Regions from separate parts of the Homo sapiens genome. Here all the other regions are reported to be linked to region 3. The links are microRNA targets in miRTarBase. Many come from high-throughput screens and were not tested one by one. Region 3 holds a microRNA gene; each other region holds the end of a gene's coding sequence.

Region 1 (4,209 bases), not on the chromosome of region 3:
TGCATAAAGAGGGATTTCCATTTTTATTAAAAGTCTGTGGCATTCTTAATCCATTTAGGTCCAAACCGAGATGTCAAGCCTGGTGCGCTTGTTTATATTTCTTTGCTGCTTGTCTAACTTTTGTGTATTTAAAGAGAGCAATCTGGCTGTTGGAAAAATATGCCAGGATTTCTAACTAATTTCTTGTCTCCATTGACTCCTGTTTGAACTTTTTGTTCTATGTCATATTATGTGAACTTAGCCATAGTGTTCAAAGACCCATCTTTCACGCTTAAGACACTGTTTTATTAGGCCCCAAAGATTTATTTCACTGCAGAAGGAACAGGTATTTATCATTTGACACGTTTTCTTGTTACTTACTTTGTAATGTTTTCCTTTTCAGATTCTTCGTGCACAGGAAGCACCGAGGAATCTGAGATGCTCAAGAGGCAACGCTCTCTCTACATCGACCTCGGCGCTCTGGCTGGCTACTTCAATCTTGTTCGGGGACCACCAACGCTTGAATATGGCTGAAGGATGCCATGTTTGCTCTAAATTAAGACAGCATTGATCTCCTGGAGGCTGGTTCTGCTGCCTCTACACAGGGGCCCTGTACAGTGAATGGTGCCATTTTCGAAGGAGCAGTGTGACCTCCTGTGACCCGTGAATGTGCCTCCAAGCGGCCCTGTGTGTTTGACATGTGAAGCTATTTGATATGCACCAGGTCTCAAGGTTCTCATTTCTCAGGTGACGTGATTCTAAGGCAGGAATTTGAGAGTTCACAGAAGGATCGTGTCTGCTGACTGTTTCATTCACTGTGCACTTTGCTCAAAATTTTAAAAATACCAATCACAAGGATAATAGAGTAGCCTAAAATTACTATTCTTGGTTCTTATTTAAGTATGGAATATTCATTTTACTCAGAATAGCTGTTTTGTGTATATTGGTGTATATTATATAACTCTTTGAGCCTTTATTGGTAAATTCTGGTATACATTGAATTCATTATAATTTGGGTGACTAGAACAACTTGAAGATTGTAGCAATAAGCTGGACTAGTGTCCTAAAAATGGCTAACTGATGAATTAGAAGCCATCTGACAGCAGGCCACTAGTGACAGTTTCTTTTGTGTTCCTATGGAAACATTTTATACTGTACATGCTATGCTGAAGACATTCAAAACGTGATGTTTTGAATGTGGATAAAACTGTGTAAACCACATAATTTTTGTACATCCCAAAGGATGAGAATGTGACCTTTAAGAAAAATGAAAACTTTTGTAAATTATTGATGATTTTGTAATTCTTATGACTAAATTTTCTTTTAAGCATTTGTATATTAAAATAGCATACTGTGTATGTTTTATATCAAATGCCTTCATGAATCTTTCATACATATATATATTTGTAACATTGTAAAGTATGTGAGTAGTCTTATGTAAAGTATGTTTTTACATTATGCAAATAAAACCCAATACTTTTGTCCAATGTGGTTGGTCAAATCAACTGAATAAATTCAGTATTTTGCCTTAGTTGTTGTGAAGCCTGTGATTCTCAGCTGGGACTGAGGATGGGCTATAGGAGTTGAGTTATAGATTGGAAGGAAATGTGTATCATAAGAAGGCAAAAAATACCAGGAGCTTTGCAAATTGTATTAATACACTCCTTTTCTATTGCTCTTGTATGAAGCTATTGTCAGCTGGAATGGTTTGCATCCCCCGGTACATTGAGGTAGAAAAAACAATTGTGGTTGTGCCTGTAATCCCAGCACTTTGGGATGCTGAAGCGGGAAAACTGGTTGAGCCCAAGAGTTCAAGACCAGCCTGGCCAACATGATGAAATCCCATCTCTACAAAAAATACAAAAATTTGCCAGGTGTGATGGTGCATGCCTGTAGTCCCAGCTACTCAGGTGGCTGAGATGTGAGGATCACTTAAGCCTGGGAGGCGAAGGTTGCAGTGAGCCAAGATCATGCCACACTACACTCCAGCCTGGATAACAGAGGGAGGCCTTGTCCCTGCTAAAAATAAAATAATAATTGTGTGCCACTGGTTTAGGGTTATGTGGTTCTATTTTGCACCCTGTTTTTATATATTTATACTATCCTTGAATACACGCTTGCATACTCTTTGCCCATTGTTATGTGGCAAGCTAATAACTAGCCATTGTAGAAGGTGGCTTTAACTCACATACATCAACTCTAGTGAAAACTGTTGAATGGAAGTCTGTCATCTACATAGCAAATAGTATTAAACACTTTTACATGTGTTGTGTAAAACATGCCATCCCTTGTAATCCATGTAAACACACATGAAATATGCATTGCTACCTCTTTTTTCTCAGAGAAGGAAATTGAGGCATAGTGAGGGTAAGTAACGTTATCCTCAAGACCGCAAAGCAAGTGAAGAAACAGCTGGTATTTAAACCCAGTCCTTTCTGGCTCCAGTACACATGTTCTCCCTCGTACGTTGCTGCTTGTAAGTGAGAGATCAACACTGCAGAGGAAACAATTTCCTTTTCTGCCCCTCTGGTAAGGGCAGAGGCAGACTGACCATGAAGCTAATGAAGCTTCAGCCTCAGGGCTCCTCACTTGCATGGGCCCCTCCATAGCCCTGTGCCTGATTTTTTTTAATGTATTTTTTATTTCAGTGACTTTTGGAGTAGAAGGGGTTTTTGGTTACATGAATGAGTTATGTAGTGGTGAATTATAAAACTTCAATGGACCCATCACCTGAGTAGTGTATGTTACACTCAATGTGTAGTTTTTCACCCCACACACCTCCCCCCCTTTATTTTATTTTTTTTGAGAAGGAGTCTCACTCTGTCACCCAGGCTAGAGTGCGGTGGCATGATCTTGGCTCACTGCAACCTCCGTCTCCCAGGTTCAAGCAATTATCATGCCTCAGCCTCGATAATCCCAGTAGCTGGGATTACAGGCATGCACCACCATGCCCAGCTAATTTTTGTACTTTTAGTAGAGACGGGGTTTCGCCATGTTGGCCAGGCTGGTCTGGAACTCCTGACCTCAAATGATCTGCCCACCTTGGCCTCCCAAAGTGCTGGGATTACAGGTGTGAGCCACTGTGCTCAGCCCCACCCTCCCCCATTATTTCACTCTGTATGCCTTTGCGTATTCATAGCTTAGCTGCCTGTGCCTAATTTCATATCACCCTAGATCAGGCCCAACAAAACTTGGACCTGCTCTTGGTTAAAGGTATACAGCTTTTGATAATTTTCATGAGATACTCACATAGTCAATATGAATTGAGTTCTAGTTAACAAATTCCATTTGGAGAAAACCATTCTCTCTTTTTTTTTTTTCTTTTTCTTTTTTTTTTTTAAGATAGAGCCTCACTCTGTCGCCCAGGCTGAAGTGCAGTGGTGCCGTCTCGGCTCACTGCAACTTCCGCCTCTGGAGTTCAAGCGATTCTCCTGCCTCAGCCTCCCGAGTAGCTGGGACTACAGGCATCCGCCACCATGCCAGGCTAATTTTTGTATTTTCAGTAGAGATGGGGTTTCACCATATTGGCCAGGCTGGGAAAACCATTCTTTTGAAATAAATTGGAACTCTAATGGAGAGAAATGGGGATGATTGCTAAGAGCTGATCAATAGTGTTGGTGGCTGAGGAAGCGGTCGTGAGAGAGAACTATGAGGGGAAGTTCGGGGCTGAGAGCTCTGTGTGCACTGAGGACTTGCAGAACTGTTCACCTGGGAGGCCAAAAGTTGCACCCTAGGATGAGTCACCAGAGAATCAGCTCAAGAGGAGCAAGGAAGCCCCAAGTGAATTCCAAAGGAATGCACTACTCACCCCCTTATGAGAAGATGGGCAGTGGGGCTGTCAGGCTTGAGTATAGTTAGAATAGAATAATCATGTCCTGAAAGCTCAGCCTGGGCAACATTACAAGACCTCATCTCTAAAAACAAAAATTAGCTGGATGTGATGACTCATGCCTGCAGTCCCAGCTACTTCAAAGACTGAGGCAGGTGGATTGCTTGAGCCCAGGATTGCAAGTCTGCAATGAGCTATGATCATGTCATTGCACTCCAGCCTGGGCAACAGAGTGAGACCCTGTCTCTAAAACAAACAAACAAAAACAAAGAAAGCAACTTCCAGCCACTTTGATAATTCCTGCTTCGGGAATTGGATGGAAGCACTGGAATGCACTGCAGAATGTATACAGAGCTTTTCCAGCTCAAGCCTTAGAGATGATCTTATTTAAGCACCTGGCA
Region 2 (4,171 bases), not on the chromosome of region 3:
ACACAGCCGGCACAGACAGCTGTCACACGCACAGATCACAGGTGCACAGAACGAGTGCTCTTTGTGAGCTGGGGTGTGAGGCCATTCACTTCTCTTTTAAAAGAGATTGATTTATCTAACTTTGCAGAAGTCAAAGAAAAAACATAAAAACATACTAGTTGAAAGAAGAAAGGGAGAGAGAACGGGAGGGAGGGAAATGAATGGGGGGCTTGTGTATCCTGAAATGGTACTTTTTACTTGCAGCTCTGATCAAAGGCCTGTCGTCCCTTCATCGAGGTCCAGGTTTGCCTTTTCCGTGTCTGTGCTGGACCTTGACCTCAAGCCCTACGAGAGCATTCCCCATCAGTATAAACTGGACGGCAAGATCGTCAACTATTATTCAAAGACTGTACGTGCCAAAGACAACGCCGTGATGTCGACTCGGTTCAAGGAAAGCGAAGATTGCACATTAGTTCTCCACAAGGTCTAACTCTTTCCCTGCAGTGTCTTTGAAACTTGAACATAATGTGAAGGCTGAATGATAGAGATATTTTCTGTTGTGTTGGGTGACCTTTGGTTGTGAATGTTTTTGCTTTTAACCCCTTTTGAGGTGGGATTGCCTCTTGGAGACATGGAATTGAAGAGCACTAGAAACAACTTCCTGGACAAGGAATGTAGGAAGTGAGTGCTGTGTCCCAGGAAGCTGCTCACACTCTTAAAATGGAAGTGTCCGTTAAGCCCTGGGAAGACGTTCTGGATAGTTCTTCTTTCCCAACCAGGGCTCATGTCTGATTCTCTAATGCGAAAAGCCTTATTCTAAGACCCAAGGTTTGGATCTGCTACCACCAGACTCCTAACATAGAAAACTTGAATTGTCACATACATTTTACAGTTTGGACTTTTAAGAAAACATGGATACTACTGGAACTTCCCCCAGCTGAGTTACATGGTCACTTTTTCAGTGCAAGCCACATATCAACACAGGTTTTTAGGTGGTTCCCTGCTGCACAGCGTGACCTCGTGGTCGCGCAGATGCCGATTCTGAGCAGTGTAGACTCAGGGTCCCTGTGGAGGTGCTGAAGCCCACAGTTCCACACAGGGCAGCAGGGAGCGCAAGGCTCAGGTCAGGATGGACACCACTCATGCGAGCATTGACCTTTTTTTTTTTGCTTTACAATTTAATCTTTCACATGAGGGGGAGATGAGCTGTTCTTTCCCACTAAAAATTGCTGCTGTAGAAGTTGGAGGTGGAGCTGTGACTGGCTGAGCTGCTGTGGCCGGGCTGGGCAGTGTGCCCCAACAGCTCAGTGCTTTCCTGACACTCCAGTGTCTGGGGTGGTTGAGGAGCGAGTTCTCTCTTCCTCCCAGACCAAGTTCCTCCCTCGGGTTTGCCTTGAGACGTGTTGCGTTTTTGGGCCCCGTGGCCTCTCCCTGTTAGGCTGCCACAGGCCCTGCTTCTGGAAGGTGAACAGCTCCTGGCTGCTGCCGAGAGGGTTCTCGTTGGGGTCACCAAAGTGTGCCCGGCTGCTATGAAAAACGTTGGGAATCTTGGTTTCAGTTTTTTATTCTATGCTAGGTTGTACAGACTTATTTATATCATCGTTTTGAGGGACTAATGGAGGCTTATTGTAACATATAATATTAGTGAAACCATGGAATTATATGAAAATGATACATGAGAAATAAGGAAACTATTTTGCTGATTGTAAATTTTTGTGGGAAATTTTGTGATAACTTGAGAATTATACTTGTTTGAATCAAGGCAACTCTTCTAGAATTTATTGTTCAATTCTGTCATATTTACTTCTAATTCTACTCTCAGAGGTGCAAAAAGATACTTATCTAACTGGACACTTTTACTGTTTTCTTCTCACTTCCAATGACACCGTCTCATACACACGGGTCCTGTGTGCTGGGATGGGGGCTTTGGTGAAGTGCACGGAGCTCACGGACAAGCCGCAGGCTCTGGGAAGCGTGGAGGTAGTGGCCGTTGAGTACTGTCTTGACCCAAGGGAGTTCACTGTTGCTGGGCTGGGGCTGGGGCAGCCTGGTTTGGGATGATTTTGCCCATTGTCACGGTGTGTGGAGGATGCTGGGTCCTGGGTTCAAGTGCACATGTGAGGGAACCCCAGTCCGTGGGAAGGTGGGCTGGGCTCCCTAGGTCCTTCAGGGCTGCAAGAGTTATTGCCTAGCACAGGGCCCAGACAGGGCTGGACTAGACACGATGAAAACAGCCTGTATTTGAGGGAGAAGAGAAAACAGATGGAGACCCCCACTCTGTCTGGTCTTGGCTCCCACCAGCCCGGGCTGTGAGGAGCCCCTGAGCCGCGGGTGCCACTGCTGTGGATGCGTTTCTGGCCCGTCTTGGAAACTGCTGCTGCTGCGTAGTCATGACGGCCCTGACTGGTTTGAGACAACACGCGTTCACAGATCTTAACAATGCTAAATGGGCGACTGATGAGGTCACGGTTCTTAAGGCACATCCGGGACGATCGATATAGCACTTAGGCTATGCAGGGGGGTCTTTCTTTCATAAAGGACCTCATTCCTTGCGTCCCAGCCCAGGAACAGTGCTGTCTTTGCTGTCTTAGGCCATTCTTGTTATTAAGCTGACAGCTTCACTTTCTTGTGGAAGACCAAGAACAGCATGAGGACTTGCTGAGACTGCCTCACGGTGCCACCATGCGGACCGGGGGGAGGCAGGGAGTGAGGGTGTGGCTCCCCTGGGCTACTAAGGACAGTTTAAAGATGAGGCGCCATAGGCATCCGTCTCCAGAGCCCCCAGGAGGCAGGAACCAGGATAAGGGTGGCTTCTCCCAGCTGAGTAATGTGGCCACCATGTCCAAGGTGGACTCGGTGTGAGGCTGCAGTGGGTGGGGGATGGATCCTCCCCACACATCTGAGGACACACAACCACTTGGTACATTTTCTCAGATGTTAAGCTTATTTTTATAAACCACATTGTACGTGTCACTTTTATTTGGCATTTTATACTTAACTAGTTGTATTTATTTTTCATGTCATGAGAGTTTCCATATAATGTGCCATAACTGCATAGACAGCACGTCTTCAGGGTGTGGTTTCTAAGCAGAAAATAGCAAATGTTTATATTGAATAAAATTGCATGTTCCTCCACGCAGCATCTTCATCCTCCACGTTCACTGTTTTGGAACTAGTTGTTCTCCTCTGCACAAAGCGATTTTATCAGGCTTTCCAGAGCAGCTTCGATTCCAAGCAGTCCTACCAGGGTTCGGAAGCTGAGAGGAGCAGTTTCTATGGCTCTGTTCTTGTCCAGCTCCAGGGCTATAAAGAAAACATTAAACCGGGTAAGAAACTTCAAGGTGGCAGCTTTTGGTCTTTTGTTTTCTGCTGGCATGGACCTCACCAAGACCCCGCACTCCTCCCGACTAGCTGCATGGGATGGGACATGCTAGTGGCGGGCGAGGAGATGGAGTGAGTGGAGGCCTCACCTACGGCTGGAGGCATATTCCCTGTGCATTCAGCCTGGGAGGGCCTTGGGGCAGCAATCCCTTTTCATGTTCTTTTTGAGTGATTATTGATAAAAATATTTAAAAATTGATAGACAAAGTACATTAATGAGATTTCCAATTTTTGATTCTTGCCCTTTGAAACCCAGAGGAAACAGGCAGGCGGCTTTGCTGGGCATGTTGAGAAGTCACCTAGAGCAGCCACACCCAGGGCCCTACCTCGCTGTGGGACTTTGGTGAGAAGATCCAGCTTTGGAAAAACCTTCCCATCTTCATCTATTTGTATCCTCCAAACAATGACTAATTCAAACCTGAAAAAGCAGTAAAACATGTCGTTATGTGCTTTTTGAAATCTGGCGAAAAGATTAGCAACCATGAGTCGCACCTGGTCTCCATTTCCCCATGCTGGGCTCCCCTGCTAGAAACCCCAATCCACAGCCAAGAAGAGGCACAGTCAGTAGCACAGGCAAATGGAACCAGGATCACAGGAAGGTGCTGCTCTGTCCCCACTGCATTGGCAAACATTAGTAGGCCAATACCAGCGAAGTACAGAACATGGAGCAACAGAAACTTCAAAATTACTGGTGGGAGCAGACATGGACAAGCCACTTTGGAAATAATCTGGCACTGACAGTAAGCTGAACATGCATCCATGCATGACACAGGAATTTCATTTCTAGGCAGTTGAGCCCAGGAGAAGCTTA
Region 3 (4,209 bases):
TGTTGCCCAGGCTGGAGTGCAGTGGCGTGATCTCAGCTCATTGCAAGCTCCCGGGTTCACGCCATTCTCCTGCCTCAGCCTCCCGAGTAGCTGGGACTACAGGCGCCTGCCACCGCACCCAGCTAATTTTTTGTATTTTTAGTAGAGATGGGGTTTCACCGTGTTAGCCAGGATGGTCTCAATCTCCTGACCACTTGCTCCACCCGCCTCAGCCTCCCAAAGTGCTGGGATTACAGGCGTGGGCCACTGCACCTGGCCAAAATTTTTTTTTTAAAAGAATAAAGGAAGTGTGGCTCATGAGAGACTGGTTATTTACTTTTGTGTGTGTGTGCGTGCGTGCGTGCGTGCGTGTGTGTGTGTGGAGACAGGGGTCTCACTATGTTGCCCAGGCTGGTCTCCAACTCCTGAGCTCAAGCAATCCTCCTGCCTCAGCCTCCCAAAGTGCTAGGATTATAGGCGTGAGCCACCATGCCTGGTAGTTAATTTTCTTTTAATTGATTTAAGCAGAAATTCTCAGCCAGGTGCGGTGGCTCACGTCTATAATCCCAGCACCTTGGGAGGCTGAGGCAGGCGGATCACCTGAGGTCAGGAGTTCGACACTGGCCAACATGGCAAAACCCTGTCACTACTAAAAATACAAAAATTAGCCAGGCAGGCCGGGCACGGTGGCTCATGCCTGTAATCCCAGCACTTTGGGAGGCCGAAGAGGGCAGATCACCTGAAATCGGGAGTTTGAGACCAGCCTGACCAACATGGAAAAACCCCATCTCTACTAAAAATACAAAATTAGCTGGTCGTGGTGGCACACACCTGTAATCCCAGCTACTCGGGAGGCTGAGGCAGGAAAATCGTTTCTACCTGGGAGGCAGAGGTTGCGGTGAGCCAAGATGGCACCATTGCACTCCAGCCTGGGCAACAAGAGTGAAACTCCATCTCAAAAAAAAAAAAAAAAATTAGCTGGGCGTGGCGGGGCATGCCCATTATCCCAGCTACTGGGGAGGCGAAGGCAGGAGAATTGCTTGGAGGCAGAGGATGCAGTGAGCTGAGATCACACCACTGCACTCCAGCCTAGGTGACAGAGCGAGACTCTGTCTCACACAAAAAAATAAATAAATAAAATTAAATAAATAATAAAATAAAACATCCAAATTGTCTTTATTTTTCTATATTTGTTTTGTTAAGCTATTCAGATTGTTTTTATTTAAAGATAGTAATAAAATGTTTTCATTACGTATATTTTAAATACCACCTCTCCCTAAAAAAATCCTAAAGTAAACAACCCTTTGCAGACCGGAAGGTGGGAAACGGGAAGGGGTAAAAAAGACGGTGCAGGCGCCGCACCTGCTGAGCTGCAAAGTCACCTCTGGATTTCTCTCCAAAGCAAAAGCAGGAGGCTCCAGACAGCAGGAGATGGAAACGGGGCGTTGGGCAAGGACGGTGCCGTCGTGTGGTCACTAGGTGGCGATGCGGCTCCGTGCTACCCGCCCCAGATCGCCCCGAGCCTCTGGGGTTAAAAACCAAGTCTGCAGAGCGTGGAAAAAAAACCTTTTTTCCACGAGATAACCACATCCACATTCTTCCGCCCCGGAGGAAGTCACCTGTCACAGGTGTTCAGGATGTGGCAGGCCCACGGGAGTGACTGGTCAGGCAGCGGGCCTGGCACGTCTAAAGCTTCCTAGGCTCCCACAGCACGCCGCCTGGGGCACGGCACCCAGGACGGTGGCAGAGCTGACCTGACTCGAGTGACCGGCAGCGTCTGCAGGGAGGATGGGGACGAGGAAAAGGCTCCCACTGCGCCGGGCCTCACCTTTGAGTGAGGATCCAGCCTCCCCATTCTGCTCCCTGAGGGGGCACCTGGGTCTCCTGGTGACTCTGTGGGCATGAAAGGTGCTGAGCTCACAGTGCGGGGGCTCCCATCTGGCCACCCACTGCACGGGCCGTGAGAGCAGCACCCAGGCCTCCGAGGTGTCCCTAGGGTGGCTCCGGGGCCTGGCTCTGAAAAGGATGGCCCGCTTCTGCCCAGACGCTGCCCTGGTCACGCTCACAGCAGCCCGGGTGACTCAGGGTGACACGCTCCCCCGCCCTCCACCGCAAGCAGGGCTTAGCTGGTCTAGGGAAAGAAGGTGTCTTTTCTGCCCAATTTGTAATCCCCTTACTACTGAGGTGTGTCCAAGTCCCAGCCAGAGCGACTCCTTCCTGCACCACCCCCTCCCTGCCAGGAGCCCCAGCAAGCACAAAGCTGGGGGTCACGGTGTGGGGGCTGCCAGTGGCAGCAGGTGGCTGGCGTGGGATTCCAAGCTCTGCCACCAAAGAGACTCCGGCCGCCCCAGGATGCGGCCTCGGAGCATCGTGCCAGCCTCCAGGGATCCCAGCGCCGTTTCCTCTGCACAGCTCCTGCCCACGGGCAAGCGAGTGCCACCTGCTCCTTCCACTGCAGCGTCCGGGCTCCCTTGCCGCAGAAGGCAGGAATCCAGAGGAACGGGGCCAGCTGGCAGCGTCTGGGAACCGGCATTTGTTCTGAACAGGCAGTACCCAGCTCAGAGCAGACGTGGTTCTCAGGGGCTGCTGGGCACAGGCTGGAGTTTGTCCACAGAGATGGCATTATGAGCAGGGTCGGTCTCTCAGGCTGGCCCACAAAACCCACAAAACCCACAGAACCCGCAGGCCTCTCCGCGCCTTCTCCATGGCCCTGCTCCTGAGGAAGGCCCTTGGCCACGGGGATTCCGTCCCAGACTCCGGAGGCCATCGGGGACCATGAAATCACGCTGACCTCGGGAGGCCGGAGACAAGCAGCCATGTGACCTAGGCAAGTTCATGCACTCTCTGGGCCTTACTTTCTTCATCCATTAAGTGGGTACAACTGTGTCGACACTCAGAGGTTGTTGAGAATATCAAAGGGGTCAAGACCTGTACACCCATGAAAAGCACCTGGCAGAGGTCACATGAGCCCAAAGGTCCCCTCCACCCGCGGTGGCTGCCGTCACCTCTGCCTCTTGCTTCCGGAACACCCCCTCCCTCCGGCCAGTGCCTCCCTTGCTGACAGCCTCTGCTCGGTCTCCCTTCCACATTCTTCTTCCTCTTCCTGGCCAATCCTTGTCACGTGTGCCCCAGCCCAATCCGTGGGCTCACCTGGATCCATAGGTGGCTAAAGGCCACCTATGAGCTGAGGACGCCAAAGCAACTCTCCCAGGCCAGACCTCAGCCTGGACTCAGGGCTTGGCTTAGGCCCATCAACTAGGAGGCCACACTTAACAGACTCTCCGGACCGGGCACAGTGGCTCACACCTGTGATCCCAGCCCTTTGGGCGGCCCAGGCAAGAGGATCACTTGAGCCCAGGAGTTCAAGACCAGCCCGGGCAACACAGCAAGACCCCGTCTCTACAAAAAATACAAAAAACTAGCCAGGCGGCCGGGCACAGTGGCTTACGCCTGTAATCCCACCACTTTGGGAGGCCGAGGTGGGCGGATCACCTGAGGTCAGGAGTTCGAGACCAGCCTGGCCAACATGGTGAAACCCCGTCTCTACTAAAAATACAAAAAAAAAATTAGCCGAGTATGGTGGTGGGCACCTGTAATCCCAGCTACTCTGGAGGCTGAGACAGGAGAATCGCTTGAATCCAGGAGGCAGAGGTTGCAGTGAGCTGAGATCATGCCATTGTACTCAAGCCTGGGTGACAGAGTGAGACTCTGTCTCAAAAAAAAAAAAAAAAAAAAACTAGCCGGGCATGGTCGCATGTGCCTATAGTCCCAGCTACTCGGGAGGCTGAGGTGGGAGGATCACCTGAGCCAGAGAAGGTCGAGGCTGCAGTGAGCTGTGATCATGCCACTGCACTCCGGTCTGGGAGACAGAATGAGACCATTTTTAAAAAAAAAAAGTGGGAAAGCCCAAATTTTACATGCATTTTGCGTCAAATTTCTAAAGCAGGGAGATTCTGAAAAGTCGCCCGTCTGGTTCTCAAAGCAGTCGCCCGTCCTGGTTCTCCAGGATGCCTGGGTCAGAGCATGAATAACCACCCCGCTCCCCACGCACGGAGCCTCGCAGTGGCTCGAGCTGAGAATCAAAGCGGCCGATCCAGGGCCTGGTGACTCCACCAGACAGGAAATACAGAGGCTTCTAGCAATCTGCTCTGCCATTTGAAAGTCCTGGGTTTGATCCTGCGCTTCTCAACCCAACACTAACAGGTCTGCAGTGGGAGGAGGTCGAGAGGG

Evidence for each region. The annotated mature microRNA hsa-miR-589-5p reads UGAGAACCACGUCUGCUCUGAG and lies in region 3 at 2,537-2,558, opposite strand. An mRNA with a match to its seed (bases 2 to 7 or 8) in the 3' UTR can be bound and repressed. Matches are read on the target gene's strand: a 7mer-m8 pairs with bases 2 to 8, a 7mer-A1 pairs with bases 2 to 7 and ends in A, and an 8mer does both.
Region 1: miRTarBase lists MAP3K8 as a target of hsa-miR-589-5p. Seed matches in the 3' UTR shown: 8mer at 711-718.
Region 2: miRTarBase lists IPPK as a target of hsa-miR-589-5p. Seed matches in the 3' UTR shown: 7mer-m8 at 1,472-1,478.

Annotation. Positions count from the first base shown.
Region 1 is chr10:30,460,324-30,464,532 of GRCh38, forward strand. MAP3K8 (mitogen-activated protein kinase kinase kinase 8) reads left to right here. Exons shown (of 9, transcript NM_005204.4): 9 at 383-1,510. The coding sequence ends at 513. Among named protein-coding and RNA genes, the nearest start is that of MAP3K8, 28 kb to the left of the region's middle.
Region 2 is chr9:92,612,130-92,616,300 of GRCh38, reverse strand. It overlaps IPPK (inositol-pentakisphosphate 2-kinase), which reads left to right. Exons shown (of 13, transcript NM_022755.6): 13 at 244-3,118. The coding sequence ends at 469. CENPP (centromere protein P) reads right to left here. Exons shown (of 8, transcript NM_001012267.3): 7 at 3,687-3,778; 8 at 1-3,282. The coding sequence ends at 3,152. Among named protein-coding and RNA genes, the nearest start is that of IPPK, 56 kb to the left of the region's middle.
Region 3 is chr7:5,493,337-5,497,545 of GRCh38, forward strand. MIR589 (microRNA 589) reads right to left here and starts at 2,581; the gene lies at 2,483-2,581. The region is part of intron 3 of FBXL18 (F-box and leucine rich repeat protein 18); the gene reads right to left. RefSeq lists enhancers at 1,725-1,804, 1,875-1,924.